2 separate regions of the Homo sapiens genome follow, and region 1 is linked to region 2. The links come from fine-mapping of genetic effects on gene expression. Tissue or cell type: whole blood. Region 2 holds a variant in brackets; the other region holds the start of a gene. All regions are shown on one strand. Distances are between the middles of the regions.

What was found. PIP is the estimated chance that this variant, and not a neighbour inherited with it, causes the effect.
Region 1: GNG2 starts here. The variant in region 2 is fine-mapped to the expression of GNG2 in whole blood (INTERVAL, PIP 0.99).

What each region holds. Positions count from the first base shown.
Region 1 is chr14:51,856,227-51,864,226 of GRCh38, forward strand. It overlaps GNG2 (G protein subunit gamma 2), which reads left to right and starts at 4,386. Exons shown (of 4, transcript NM_053064.5): 1 at 4,386-4,564. RefSeq lists a silencer at 3,873-3,952 and enhancers at 4,005-4,506, 4,293-4,502.
Region 2 is chr14:51,965,760-51,974,023 of GRCh38, forward strand. GNG2 (G protein subunit gamma 2) reads left to right here. Exons shown (of 4, transcript NM_053064.5): 4 at 800-4,036. The coding sequence ends at 928. Among named protein-coding and RNA genes, the nearest start is that of RTRAF, 20 kb to the right of the region's middle. The variant C/A (reference allele first, on the strand shown) is at 3,633.

The sequences.
Region 1 (8,000 bases), 110 kb before region 2:
GAGAGAGAAGGAGGTGTACAGCATTGCAGAGAGATTAAAGAGTTTGGGGATTTGGCATATGAGATGCTCTGGGACAGTTGGAATGTGGCAAAGATTTGAGAGTGCAGAAGGGGATGTGAGAAGTGTTTCTAGCTTATTCATCAGTCTCTTTAAAGTTCCTACAGAGATACAAATAAAGAATAGCTTTCTTTTTAATATTTCTTTTCTTTTTTGTTGTTGTTGTTCGAGACGGAGTCTTGCTCTGTTGCCCAGGTAGAGTGCAATGGCAAAATCTTGGCTCACTGCAACCTCTGCCTCCTGGGTTCAAGTGATTCTCCTGCCTCAGCCTCCTGAGTAGTTGGGACTACAGGCGTGCACCACTACACCCGGCTTATTTTTGTATTTTTAGTAGAGATGGGGTTTCACTGTGTTGGCCAGGCTGGTCTTGAACTCCTGACCTAGTGATCTGCCTGCCTTGGCCTCCCAAATTGCTGGGATTACAGGCATAGGCCACTGAGCCCAGCCTTAATATTTATTTTCTAATTACTTTTTTGTTGCCAGACTATGCTTCTTTATAAGAAGTTCAATGCAGAAATGGAACTAGGAGTTGTCCCAGAATTTTTTAGGCTTGCCCATATAACAAATATTCAGAATTTTGTGTGCATGTGCCATGGATTTCTATAGAAAATTTGCAAAATATATATATAGAGAGGGAGGGATTTTATTTCTTACCCCATGACCAACTTCTCATTTTTGAGACTTCCTTTTCCTCCCCTCACTCAAAGGAATGGAATTTCTGCCAATGATGCCTTTTCATTATACAAACATCTGTTGACTCTGCTGTGTGACAAGCAAATGTGGACCTAACCTTAATGGACCCAAATGCTAATGGGTGAGATGCACATCTAACAAAACCTGAAAATAATGGCTTTAGTGCTGAAATGGAAGTAGAGGCAAGGCACCAGTCATACTCACAGAAAAGGAAGCACCTGCCTAGTTTCCACGGCCAGGGAAGGCTTCTGAGAAAAGCTGAGTCCTAAAGGATAAGTAGGGGTTTACTAGCAGGCAAAATAGAGGAAGGGATAGGGCATTTCTGGCAACAGAAATAGCATGTGCCAAGATGCAGGGAGAAAGCAGCACAGTCCCATCAGGAACCTGTTGTGAAGGTTGTAGGATATAAGGCTGCGACAGGCCCTAAGGTGAGAATGTGGACAGGTGACATCACAGAAGGCTTTGTATGCCATGCAGAGGAATTAAGGCATATATCCTGTAAGCAACCTGGAGGGGAAGATACTGAAGAATTATAGTAGGAAAGTGACTTGATCAACTCTCCATCTCAGCAATGTACTTCTGATGGGGATGGCTTCGAAGAGAGACTGGAGGTAGGAGGACAAAGTAGAAAGTATTGTAATTGCACAGAAAAAACCAAAGCATTTGTAAAATAAGACAGTGGCAAGAGGAAGAGAGAGGAGGGGTTTGGGCAAGGAGATAGTTTGGTGGTGAGAAGGAAAGGAAGAGGAACTTTAAATCAGATTGGGATAACAAAGATAAAAGGTTTTGGGATTATTCTTATATTCCTGATGTGGGCAACTGGTTTGTATTCCTCATTAAATGAAATGGAGAATATAGAAAGAGGAACAGGCTTTGGATGAAGGTATAGTACATAATTTGGGGATTATTAAACATAACTCCAAGGAACATCCAGCTAGAAAGCTCAATAACATAGGAGAGACATCAGGCCAAAATTATGTCCTCCTCATTACCCAACCTCCGCTACCAGTAGATGTAAGAAATACAAGGTATTAATGCCTGCAAATAGGCCATGCATGAATGTTAGAGTATTTTACAGACTTTGTTTTACCCAGTGATAAAATGTACTGGGATAGGCTCATGGTTAGCAATTGATGCATAAACTATTAATGGCGAGATGTCATTTTCCTAAGAAATTAACACTTTGCAAACTTGGTATGCAAACTTGTGTTAAGAGCTCTAAACTGGATTAATCTATCCTGGCCAAGCTATACCCCCACACTTTACTTTTCTCTCCTGAAAAAGAGGCTATTAGGACCAGTTGAAAAGCAATGAGGTATTAATGAAAGAGAGGTCTTAAAATCTAGTTTTTAGCTTTGTATAGAGTTTTGTTGGCACCTCCCAACACTGGCGATTAACCTACTGTGAGTTTTATAAGGGCCAGAGATGGAAGAACTAATTAAAAGGCAGCAGGCAAAATTCCTAGAGATTTTATTGTTTGAAAGAGGTTTTCCTATATAGGCTTAAGTATAAATACCAACCTATATAGGCTTAAATATAAATACCAACCATCGGAGGATGGTTGAGAGAGAGTTAGAAACAAAAAGACACAAAAAATTACTGTACTTGAATCTAGAGTTTATGCCAGAACCTACTTGTCTAAAATTAACCATAGTCTTGTTTCCAACCATTAATAACATGCTTCTCATTTTTCTTAGACTTGGCATCATGCATATTTAAATTTACATTTAAAAGTTCCTGGTAACCTTTGGCACAAGGGTTCCTGGTTTGGAGATAACTCACATGTTGGTGGATTCATGCCCAATCCCTCTCACTACTGCATTTCTATCTGCTGGTGGATCAAAGCTAGTTGCTCATTTTCAATCTTAAATCAATCCATTTTGTAATTTTCAGGTGTGAGTGAGTTGACATCAGGGTCCTTTTTGATGAAAGATTTCCTTGAAAAAATAAGCAAACTGTTCAAATCAAAACAAAGGGTGTTTTGGGACTGTCTCAGAACATTTCATAGAAATTAAATTCTGTACCTTCTAGGTTAACGTGCTGTGGTCCTCACGATGTGTTTGGAAGGCTCAACTGGAGAGTTATTCTCCATCAGTCCTAGATTTCTAACATTTCCTGTTAGTTTACTTGCTGGAGGATTAAGGCAAAACTGGATTAAAAAGGAGGAGTTGGGGAATTAACTGTTTCCTGGCAAGATTAGCTTTCCAGGCACTGATTCCTGAGAAGAGGTGTTTTTTGTTGTTGTTGTTTTTGTTTTTAACTCCATAATGTTGCCTGGACACTAGAACAGGATTCCCCTTCCCCCATCTCATGTTTAATCTGTAGCTTCCCCAAAGTACCTTGTGTTAGTACTAGGGGGAGAATGACTCACACGTTGAATAAATTGTTATTAAAGCATCTGGGCTCAATTGTGAACATACTAATAGTGAGGAATTGGAAAACCAAGTACTGGTGAGGGTTCGGCTGCTGACTGGCGAAATCACTTGCTGAATGTGAGGCCCAACATCCTCTAAAAATAATAAGAGTTAATATGTGCCGAATACGTCCTATATCCCCAGAACTATTATTAGCACCTTGTATACCATCTCATTTAATCCTCATATTTCCAATGTAGAGCATGACTATCATCAACTATGTTTTGCAGATGAGGAAACTGAGGCACATAGATGTTAAATAATTTGCCCAAGTTCATACAGTCATTAATGGCAATTTGGATTGAAATTCTGGCAGACAGAGACAGCTTGCAGGCTCTACCCTGGTGGGTTCTACGATATTACCTCCTAAGATGAAGGGAAGGGACTGGAGGATCATGAGGGTCCTTCAGCCCTACTAGTGTGTGTGGAATGGGGAGAGGAGTATTCAGTTTCTCTGTTGGGAATGTGCAGCATTCAGCACCACCTCATTCCTTCCCATCTATGAGAATCTTTTGGGAATAGTCCTCACTATTAGGCCTATAGGTAGCATTGCCAACTTGGTTTAGTTCCCGTGCCCCATAAGAATACTTATCAGGGCCATTCTTTTCTGAGCATGTGGGTTAAGTAAGATCTCAGTGGTAGTGGGACCTTGGAGAAATGAAGCCTCTGAAATGTTGGCCACAGAGAAAAATGCTGCAGTGAGAAGCTGCAAGCTGCAAGCTGCAAGCTCCCAGCTAGCTGGCTTGATGGGGACCACAGTAAATCAGGAGGAACAGTGGAGGCTGGTGTGGGATCTCGGGGGCCAGAACCTGGCCAGGGGATGTTGACCCAAAAAAAAACAGCAGCAGCAGTAGAAACAACAACAGCAAGAACAACAATAGCAACAAGCCAGGTTCAGGCTAAAAAAGCAGGCAGTGTGCCAGGAAGGGGGCCGACTGAGCAGTGTGTGGAAGCTGTCGTGGAGGTGACCGTGGGGGGATGAGAAAAGGGGAAGGAAGGAACAGACAGCACCAGAGGGACTTGAACAAAGGGAGAAGGGGGATTAAAGTCAAATCACTGTCAGCAGCCCAGGAGCAGACAAAACCACCAGAGTAAGCCCTGAAATGGAAATGAGAGGGAAAAGAAGCAAGCCGCTAACAGCTACCAAGAAGAGGAGGAAGTGGGAGATGCGCTGCTTCCTGTAGAAAGAACGTTGATTGAAGACAAAGCTGGGTGGGGACTAGTCCCTGGGCTGCAGCCGCTGCTACACATACTCACAACGCTGCCGCCGCGCTCCGTGGGCAACTCCTACTACTGCTGGGCTGGGCTGGGCTGGGCTGGGCTGCGCCGGAGCTCGCCTGCACAGATCAGCTCCGGAGAGGGGAAAACCACGCTCCTCGGACCAAGCCTCGGGAGCTAAGGTAAATGAAACGTTTTCCATGTTGCTCGTTTTTAATTGAGAAAAACGACCGTCGCTTGTGGTTTTAAGGTCCGATTTCTAAGGGATGATAGAGACATCGCTTCAGGACTAGGGGAAATGATTAGATTCTTTTGGAAGGGTCTTTGAGAATAACCACATTTATGACACATTTGATTTAAAAAAACCTCATCATCAGTGCTTAGATTTGATGACTAAACAGGCCAACATGCTAAATACAAGAAGCTGTTTGTATAGTTCTCTCGGAGGAAAACCAGGGCTGAGTCGAAATCCATCTGGGGCTGTGAAGCTGTGGTCTGGTCATCGGAGCCCGGCAGTCCCCTTGTTTTAGGGGAGTGAGTGGTGTAAAATATTAATTGCATTCTCTTTCTTACACATTGCACTGGGATATCTTCTGTTTTGCAAAAATAATGGCTGTGATTTGGCTTTTGGGGGAGTTAAATTCTTTTGTACTTAGATTTTGCCAACAAAGGCTTGAATTGCGTATGTGAGGGGCAGTATTTACCATTAAAAAACAGTGTCTTCCTCCCTCAGCTTGTGCAGCTGCTTTCAGGATAACCTCAGACACAGCTATCATTTGCCAGTAGGTCTTATCCTAAAGTTGCATCCTTGTTCAAAGGAGCGTGGCGGGTTTAAGGCCAGTAACTTGTCCAGAATCAGATACTAGCATATGCATGGATTTTATGTTTATATGCATTTTATTCACCTCTAGGTCAAGGTGCATGTTAGCCTCGGTGAGGGACAAAATAAAAAAGTGCAGCTGGGTTGTTTCCTTACGCGAATATCTGGTAGATAGACTGAAGTAGTAAAACCAGAACATGATTTTTATTCTTTGATTTTCTTGAGCAAAGGATGTTCTTAATGAGAGCCTGGGTCTATGACTTGTTCATATTTATGAATGATATGTAAAAGTACACTAAATAGGTCTAGCAGATGAGAACTGAGATTGTGAGATTCCTCTGACAGGATATATTAGGGAGTTTAATACCCTCATGCAGCACGATTTAAAGAATTAAGCTTTTTTAATCTTCAACAGAAAGTACAGTTAAGCAGTAAGTAGTCATTGATAAAAGGGTTTTTCTTCTAGAGTTTCTATAATGAAAGGAGATAATTTTTCAAAAGAAAGAGAAAAAACTGCTTATAGTGGAGTAAAAATTTAAAAAAAGTCAATATTTTGACACTCACAGATTCTTGAAACATAGGTTCTTAGATACCAAATATGCTAGTTGAGAGTGTATGTATGTATATGCCTCCTCCTTTATCATCGTTCTCACTTGTTAAGAGCTATAGGGCTATTTTTAATGCTATCTTTATGAAATCGATATGGCTTCTCAAAATCTGTGGAGTAGCAGCACATTTTGAGAGATGGGAAGCTTTTATAGCTACTAAAGAAAAAAAAAGTCTATTTCTCAGAGGTTTTTTGCTCATTAAAGTAAACCTGCACCATGCCTAAGAGACAAAGTACTGCTAGTATTGAAACCATGGAACTCCTTGAAGGATTCACTGAATTTAATCAAACTTGTGGGCAAAACAAGTCGTGACATGGATTTTGCAGTTCCACTTCCTATTTGCATCTTAAAGGGAAGTATGTAAAGATCATCTTCTTAGAGAAGAGACCTAGGATAGATCTTCGATCCAGAATGACCCAGTGGAGTTCTAGAATCAAGCTGTGCATCATGAAATGAAGTAAAAAGTTGGCAACCTGAGCTGCATGGATAAGGACAGGCTTACCCTTTGGTACTTACTCCTCTGCAGGCTGTATTCACTAGATAATGCCAACACCCTACTTTGTTTGGGGAGGCACAGACAATCTGCATTAGTCTTCTGTGTGTGTTTCACACATGAGTAAGAAAATGAAACCTTGCCCGACGGGCATAGTAGAGTCAAGAGGGCCTTGCTATCTTTCTGAAAACAACTAAGAGGTGCCTATTTTCTGCACAGCACAAAACATTTCTTAATCGTTAAATTCCAGCTTGAAGCAGAACATTAGTGAGTAACAGCAGATCAGTAACTATGATGGTAGAATGTTTAGGAAAAAGATGAATATGCTTCTACATTGTAAAATGAAACTATTTCCACTTATTCTGGCCATATGGAATATTGAAAGACTTAATGATTTTTCCTGGGGTATTCACTGGCTTTTGAGGAGTAGACCAACACAGAAATTTTAATTGTGCTTTTTTTTTTTTTTTCTGCCATATGGCCAATGGCTGAATGGAAACATGACTCCATTATTTCATTGCCAGCCTTGGGCCTCATATGGTGGACATGTAGTGAATGTGTTTGTTTGACTGACTTTGTTTAGCCTGCTTCAGAAAGCAGGCCCAACTTTTAAGTCTAAAAGCTGTATAGTCAAAGTAGAAAGCCTGTTCATAAAAGACTTCTGTGGGTAGGAGAAAACACTGTGGAGTGAAAAGAACGCAGGCTTTGGAGCCAGGCAGATCTGCCTTTGAAACCTATTACTGGTTCTTACTACTTACCTTGGTACATTAACTTAGGAACCTCAGTTTCCTCATTGTAAAGAAGGGCTAGTAATACATAATCAAAGTTGTTGTTTTGCTTTGTTTTTGCTTTTGTGTGCGGATAAGTGAGTGATTTCTACATAGAAGGTACTGAAATGTTATTTTTTTCTTCCTTGGTGGCATAAGGAAAAGTTAGCATATTCTTGGTCTTTACCACTGCCTCACAGGTTTAGGGAGACTTTTTTTATAGTGATAAAATATACATAACATAACATTTCCCATTTTAACTATTTTTTTAAGTATGCAGTTCTGTGGTAGCGAGTACATTGATGTGCTGTCATCACCACCGTCCATCCATAGAACTGTCTTTATCTTGCAAAACTGAAATTCTATACCCATTAATCAATACCTCCTCTTTCCCTCCTTCTCTCAGCTCCTGGAAACCCCCATTTTACTTCTGTCTCTATGAATGTGACCAAGTATCCCATATATGTGAAGTCATACAATATTTGTCCTTTTGTGACTGGCTTAATACACTTAGCATAATGTCTTTAAGATTCATCAATGTTGTAGCATGTGCTAGAATTTCCTTCCTGTTTAAGCTGAATAATATTCCATTGAATGTATAGACTATACTTTGTTTATTCTCTTTTGATGGACACTCGGGCCATGTTTTGGCTATTGTAAATAATACTGCTATGAACACGGGTGTACAAATATCTGTTAGAGTCCCTGCTTTTACTTCTTTTGGGAACCCAGAAGTGAAAATGATGGAACACAGTAATTATATATTTAATTTTTGAAGAATTGCCATACTGTTTTCCATAGCAGCTGCACTATTTTACATTCCCACCAGCAATGAACAAGGATTCCAACTTCTCCACATTCTCATCAATATTTATTTTGTTTTTTATTTATGTTTTTGATAATAGCCATTTTAAGAGGTATGAAGTGGTA
Region 2 (8,264 bases):
GAAGCAGAGAGTCACGACTACAAAATGATAATAATGGCTAGCCTGTGTGGAAAGCTTGCTATGTGCCAGACACTAAATGATTTACAGGGATTTTTTCATTTAACCCTTGTTACCAGGGCTGGGACCAGGGTGGGGCAATGAGATATCGGAGCACAAAAGTGAAGGAGGGCCGGGCACAGTGGCTCACGTCTGTAATCCCAGCACTTTCGGAAGCCGAGACAGGTGGATCACTTGAGTCCAGGAGTTCAAGACCAGCCTGGCCAACGTGGTGAAACCCTGTCTCTACCAAAAGTACAAAAAATTAGCCAGGCACCATGGCACACACCTGTAGTCCCAGCTACTAGGGTGGCTGAGGCAAGATAATTGCTTGAACCCAGGAGGCAGAGGTTGCAGTGAGCCAAGATCAAGCCACTGCACTCCAGCCTGGGCAACAGAGCGAGACTGCATCTCAAAAAAAAAAAAAAAAAAAAAAAAAAAACAAATGAAGGAGACAGCCACCTGCGGGGCTATGGAAGTGCAGGGTTGACACCTGCATGCCCCTGCCAGCGAGTGCCTCCTTCGGTTCTGCACCCTAAGTGCCTCACTCACCTTAACCTAGTCCCAGACTTGCTGGCAACAATCCTGTAAGGTCAGTGTCGTCAACTTTCTTCTTTGCAGATGAGGAAGCAGAAGCTTTTAGAGGCTGAGTATCTTGCTTCATGGAGCAAGGATTTGATGCCAGGACATTGGGCTCTAAAGCCTTGGGCCTTGACTGACTGTACCAGACTCCAGTGTTGGTTGTTTTTGTCTCCCTTTCCAGGTGTCCAAGGCAGCTGCAGATTTGATGGCCTACTGTGAAGCACATGCCAAGGAAGACCCCCTCCTGACCCCTGTTCCGGCTTCAGAAAACCCGTTTAGGGAGAAGAAGTTTTTCTGTGCCATCCTTTAAGTCTTTGAGAGGGGCCTGAAGAGCCTCCGGGCTCCTGGGACATTGATGTAGAGTTTTTAGTGAAGTGGGCACCTTTCTAGTCCACGGCATTTGAAGAGAGCGAGGAGAACCATTCTGGAAACTCTAGGCTATGCATGTTTAAAGATCTGGTCCCCTTTATGAGAATGCAAGCCGATCCACATCCTGACTTAAGAGATCTGATTCTGACGAACTGCCTGGAGGAGGGGAATATATAAAAATAAAATTGGTGTCACTTCTTTTCTGCTATCCCCCAGCCCCCCCCCCAAAATCCTCATGTTTCTGCTTCATATTTTGAAAAATAACAATTAAAACAGACAGCTGTACTGAGGTAAGATATGTGTGACCTTCTTGGAATGAATATTGTCTTTAGAATACCCTTTGATAAGCTGAGCTGTCCCGTGTAGATGCAATTCGGTTTAATGGCATTGATGTATAGTCACTGTGCCTTTCTTTTTCTTTCTTCCTTCTCCTCTACCCCTCCTTCCACCCCTCCCCATTAGAGTAGTGTGGAGATAAGGCTGGACTGGTCTATCAGATTGAACTCCAAGAATGATCACACAAAATGTTTAGGGAGATGTTCCCCGTGGTGTATCCTCATGGTAACAACGACAAAAAATGCCGGTTGTCTGTGTTCTCTTTTCACTATTCCTAACATGTGTACATGATAGCTTTGATTCTGCAAGTAAAAGTAAATCCTGTGTTGTGACTGGTGCTTTCATATATTTGTGACAATTTTTGAGTAATATTGCATGAAAATGTCCCTATGTTACATCCATTCAGAAGTTTTGTTGTTTTACTCTAAAGCTGGGAAAGGAAATGAGAGGGAAAAGACCCCGGAGAGGGAAGAAAATCTCAGTATTTTGAAAATTGAGATTACTTCAGAGCCTTAGCCACACCTAAAATACCTCCTAGTTAATAGTGGTATAAATGCCTCTTCAATACGTTTTCCAGAATCCAAAGCATTTTGGTTTATCCAGGACCCAGGGCAGCACAGCTGTCACCAAGCAGGAGAGTTAAGGATTCACCATGAGCTGGGAAATGCTTTTGCCATGAGTATGAGCAAATTCCCTCTTTCCCTGAATCATGGACATTCTAGATTAAAAGAACATTTTTTTGTGCTCTTAACAAGAAAACCATGGCCCTCCTTTGTTCAAGTATCAGAAGAAATAAACCCACAGCTCCAGAGAAGGTGACCATTCTCAGAACTCCAGCTATTCACTCTCCAGGGAGAAGGACCTCAAATCGCCACTCTTTGGGCGGCAGGTGCGGTCCCCACGGCCGGCTCTACGAGGAAGAGTTCTGGCTCTTTTGTCCACTGAGATGGTCTTGGTTTTTCACTTAACAAATTTTTTAATGGAATCTTTGTTTTTGTTCTCCATCTTGTTTGTTAGAGTCTCTCGGCCTTTATTTACAAATTCCTTGCAACTAGAGCGCTCCTTCCCCAAGATATGGTAGTGAGAGTAATTTTTCATTGTAGCTGTAGTCTCCATCAGTAACAGCAGGCCCTGGAAGACTTGATCACCTTTTTCTGTGTCATTTTCAGTCAAAGAGGGCCTCTCTTACATCTTGTTTGCTTTCAAATCCCCAAATATCATCTCCATCTCCCAATTAATTTTATTGTCTCTTTCCTCTCTATTCGCTTTCTCCTGTTTTTTTTTTAAAAAAAAAGCATGAAAAAGGAAGAGAAAAAGTTTGATATGCCAAGGACAGATTTTGAAACAGACTTGGTAAATGTTTTCCTTAGCTCCTTCATGGGCATGCTGGTGAAAGAATAAATACATCCAATTAAAGCTCATGCTGGGGTCGGGGAGAAGAGGATACTGAAACATTTGTGAAATGTATGAATGCACTTCTGTAACCAGATACTTCTGTTCTTCTGTTCAAATTGTGGGGTTTTTGTTACAGTTAGGACGCCCATGAAGATTTAGGGGTGAAAAAAACAGCAGAGTATTTATTAAACTACAGCATTGTACAATTAGCTTAGTAACACTATGGAATAAGCTAAAACATATCACAGTTTTTACATGGGCCAAAACATGAATTGAGTATGTGGTCACATGAAAACACGGATGAATGAATAAAACACTCTTTGGTGGTGACTGAGGCATCATTAGAAGGCCCAGACGATTTCCACTATTCACAGCATTTCCTTTTCTCAGAAGGACTCTTTATATTTCCATGTAAATCTAGATCTTTGGAGCAATTAAGATGGAATTACAATTTCTAGGGAGCATTTTAAGGAAAATGTTTTGGCTTTTTCATAATTTTATGTCTTACAGTATGGAATTATAATACGAAAATCTTTATATGAGTTTTGGCTTCTTGGTATTTGTACTTATTCAGGGGAAAAAGTCTTTCGATTACTTATGCCTCTATAGAGCTTAATTTCTTGAGAAATTCAACAGTCATTTTCACCAGCATAATTTTATCTTAAGGAATAACTAATAGGAAAAGTCAGCTTAATTATTTAAGGCCCTAGTTTCTACATATAATATATTCGATAGAAATGAAAATCTGCCGTGGAATTAACTAATAAGTAGTAACAATAAACTTCATATTTAGAATGCAAAGTCTATAAAGAATAATTTTACATGATCCTCAATATCAACTCCAGTTTAAAAAGTGTTATTTTTAAAACATTTGAAACCAAGTACTGTTTAATTTCAATCAGAAGATGCAAATA[C/A]ATACTTTGATCTATGTTTGATTTTGCTAATAATATTTGAAGGAGATTGCCTACCAAGGACAAAACAATAAATTTAAAAATCAAACGATTTCTCCATACGCTCATAGTCACATATGGAATTTTGAGAAAATAAAGCATGCTGTCTTTAGGAATTTTTATACTTCTTTGTCTTTCTTCCTTAATATTTGCTTCTAGCTGCTCTTGGCAATGATGAATTGTTATGTATGCATTAATGTTTTGCAGCCCAAAAGTTGTTCACATTTTTCCTATATAAGATCTGTGGAGTGTGTGTTTCAAAGAGAGAACTACAGAAATGTTAAAGCAGGAAAACCTGAATGTGATGTGCACATTTTCATCCCACATGGACAATGTATGTGTTTTAATAAATGGAATTTTCAGATTCATTTCATATGCAGTCAATTTCATTGTGACGGCCACTGATTCTGTGGTCAATTTGAGAAGGATCTGATGGTATGAATGGATGAGGAAATAGGAATCCATTGATTTTCTTTAGGATTTTGTTAATAGAGATGTCCGAAAGAAGAAAAAACTCACTTGACACTCTAAAAGCATTTCTTACTAGGTCTGTACATCTTGGGTACAGCCTTTGGGGACAGAGAAAGGTGGGGGCTGTGAGGAGAGCCCAGGGCTCTGATAGGGTGGAGTATGCAGACAGAGGAGCTGTATTTACACTTTCACTTGCTGCAGGTATGCCACAGTGGGCTTTTTCCCTTATGAAAAATAAAGACTGAACAACAGAAGTGCTGTTCTCTGTAGCTATCTGTGATTTAAAAGGAGTACAGGAGAAGCTAAGTCCTTAGAACTCTAGATGCAGCTGCTCCTTGGAGATCTTCTTAGTCGAGAAAGACTTCTGAATGTTCCTCAGATTATGCCAGTAACAGACCCTGTTAGTAAAGAAGGAAACACTGGATCTCCTGGGACTTGTGCCAGCAACAGCAGCATCTTTAAACCACGGATGAAGGGGGCCACTTGGAGTTTGCACACTAGTGCTCCACTGACATCAGTGTTTCTCAGACTGTGGTCCATGGACCACTTGCTCCAGGAGTATTAATACCTGGAATGCCTCTTTACAAAGCGGATCCTGAGCTACCCACGAACTCAGAATCCCTGGCAGTGACTCAAGAACGTGCATTCTGTTACATGCTATAGTCTGAGGACCACTACAGTATTTATGACAGCTAGCTTTTCATACTGCCAAAGGAAAGGCACAAACAACTCATAAATATTCTCGCTCTTCTTCCCACAGCCCCCAGAAGTGGCTGCCTAGGCATGAACATGTAACTGAAGGGTGAGAATCTAGCCAGCAACTAGACATGCTACACTGAGGAAGACGCAGCTGGGCTGTGACTCTGCTCCTGTTTTGTTGAGCCCCTGTGGGAGGACTGCCTCCAGTTCTCATTCTTTAATAAGCTGGTCACATTGTAGATGGCACTTAGAATGACAGAGGGAATTGGAGCTGGGTCAGCTCCAATCCACAAATTGCAAATAATTTGCCAAGGGAAATCCCTTTCCCTTCGGTTCTGCCCCAAATCTACATTTTCTTCTATTTAGAACCAGGAGACTCAGGCAGAATTTATTTTAATGAAGAAGGCCATGGGCTCCTGGGCCTTTCCTCAGCAAGAACTACTGCTGTTTCTCTCTGGAAGTCATAAGAAAAGCCGGGAGCCGGGTATTGCATCTCCACAATGAAGCAACAGAAAGACGGGGCCTGGGGAGCTCAGTCCACACTGTGCTCGAGCATTAGCATGCACTAGAGAACCAGAACTAGGCTCCAGCGCTCCCATGCGACCTTGGGCAAGTCCTTTGACCTCTCCTGCTTTAAAGTGGGTACAAGAATGCCTGATTCATTTATCTCACAAAATGGTTAAAAACAAATGAAAGAGGATGGGCACAGTGCTCACGCCTATAATCCCAGCGCTTTGGAAGGCTGAGGCAGGTGGATCACTTGAGGTCAGAAGTTCAGCCTGGCCAACACGGTGAAACCCTGTCTCTACTAAAAATACAAAAATTAGCCAAGTGTGGTGGTGGGCACCTGTAATCCCAGCTACTTGGAAGGCTGAGGCGTGAGAATTGCTTGAATCGGGGAAGCAGAGGTTGTAGTGAGCCAAGATCACGCCACTGCACTCCAGCCTGGGTGACAGAGCGTGATTCCATCTCAAAAAAAAAAAAAAAAGAAAAGAAAAATGAAAGAGGTAAAGGGGCATCACGAAGGCAGAGGTGGTAAAGAACCATTAGAAACTACTTGACGGCAACCTTCGAAGAAAGGAAACCGCTAGATAGCTCCTGCTCACCTCTTAACTCACCTCCTTTCTCTCTAGCCCCCAAATGCCCTGGTTGAGACCCTCAGTGTCTCATGTCTGAATTCCCATCACACCAGCTGGTATGGGCATTCTGATGCTCATCTCCTCCCACTTTCACCCAGTTGACCCTGAGTATTCATTAGTCAGGACTTCTTTGATTGCAAGTGACAGAAACCTAATGCCCCAAAATAGGTCCCACTTCAAGCCCAGCTGGATCCAGATGCTTAGAGGATGTCATGGAATGTCCCTGTCATCCCTTGGCTAGGCTATTCTCTGTGCTGGTTTAATTCTCAGACTCTTGCCCCGCAGCATCAAGATGGTGTCAGCAGGCCCAGGTTTATATCTCAACAGTTTAGTAATCAAGGAAGAAAGATAACAACAGCTCTAGCAGAAGCCTCTGGCTATATCCCTGGAACCCTTCCTAAGACACTATTGGCTAGATCTGGTTCCTGTGCTCGCCCACCCCTGGACCTAGGGATAGAGGTAGAGTCACTGGGCCATGTGGGCAGAACAGTGGTTCTAAGGAAATTGAAGTCCTTTTGCTACAGGAGGCAGGATTGAAAGTTAAAGGCAAAAAACAACTGATGCCAACCACATCTTAACAGATTTATTGATGTTACCTCATCTTTCACCATGTTCAGAAACCCAAGGTTCTCTGGTTCATGGTGCTCTTTGTCAACCACATCATGTCCAATCTCAACTACCTGGCTCTCAAGGCCCTTGAGAGGCCCCACTTGGCTAATCCCATCTTGCCATCCAAACCCTCTTTTCCAGTTCATCCTGTCTCCTTCAGTGTGCTGTGAGTTCATCCCACTTCCCTGTCTGCTGCTTTTTACATTTTTTTTAGACAGAGTCTCGCTCTGTTGCCCAGGTTGGAGAGCAGTGACGTGATCTCAGCTCACTGCAACCTCCACTTCTCGGATTCAAGTGATTCTCCTGCATCAGCCTCCCAAGTAGCTGGGATTACAGGCACCCACCACTATGCCTGGCTAGTCTCCCCTTTTGCTTCTGATGTTACCCCCTCTGGAATGTCATTACACAACTCCTTGAGTAACTAAACTTGCTTTTCTGTCAAGGTTTAGCTTGAATTCCACGAGGTCTATGAATGACTTCAGGAAATATGAACCTTTCTCCTCTCTCCACTCCTGTTGCCCTTGCTGTCAGTATTGTTGAGTATTTGACTGTGTTTGAGGCGTTGTGCTAGGGTAGAAGGCATGGCACCTGCCTTCCGGAGCTTGCGGTTTAATGGAGAAAATAGACAAGTGAATAGTCAGTTACCAAAGTGGTCAATTCTAGGACACAGAAGCTAAAGGGAGGGTAGAAGTGATGACCAGCCAGAGGAGGTGATGCTGGAGTTAATCATACTTAAATGATAATCTTTTTTTTTTTTTTTTGAGGCAGAGTTTCACTCTTGTTGCCCAGGCTGGAGTGCAGTGGCACAATCTCAGTTCACTGCAACCTCTGCCTCCCGGGTTCAAGGGATTCTCCTGCCTCAGACTCCTGAGTAGCTGGGATTATAGGTGCCTGCCACCACGCCTGGCTAATTTTTGTATTTTTGGTAGAGATAGGGTTTCACCATGTTGGCCAGGCTGGTCTCGAACTCCTGACCTCAGGTGATCCGCCCGCCTCGGCCTCCCAAAATGCTGGGATTACAGTCATTAGCCACTGCGTCCGTCCAAGAATCTTGTCTCTAGGGTAGTGTAACCTTTAGGAAGTAGACAACACTAGGTGGATGGGCTTCTCTTTAATCTTTCCCTCATTGTAGGGCAGCTGAGAATGAAGCTCTCCCCTGCAAAGGGGTGGGCGATTGGCTCTGCACACAAAACAATGGGCCAAAGCTGAGTGGAGGTCGTCACCTCTCCCCCTCCAACCTCTACTGGCTCCGTGTCTTCACAACATCATGGGGACATTGTCTTCAGCCAGCAGCCCTTTGGCCTGGGTGATACCACCATGCACCAACCTGGAAGTCAGATCTCGTGGGCTTCAGGCCCAGGGGCTGCAGGAAATACATTGCTGGCTGTATCACCTTAATTTTAGCCCCAGGGGAAGGGGCCCTTCCACTATCTACTGGGAACACTATCTCTAATTGCCCTTCCCTGTGTGTGCATTTGGCGATTTACATTTAGATATAAATTAACTACAACTTTCAATAAAATTAAAAATTTGGTTCCTCAGCTGAACCAGCCATGTTTTAAGTGCCCAAAGCCACATGCAGCTAATGGCTATTGTCTTTGGACAGCACAGATATAGAGAACAGTTCCATCACCGTGGAAGGTTCTATTAGACAGCGCTGCTCTAGCATAATGGCAAC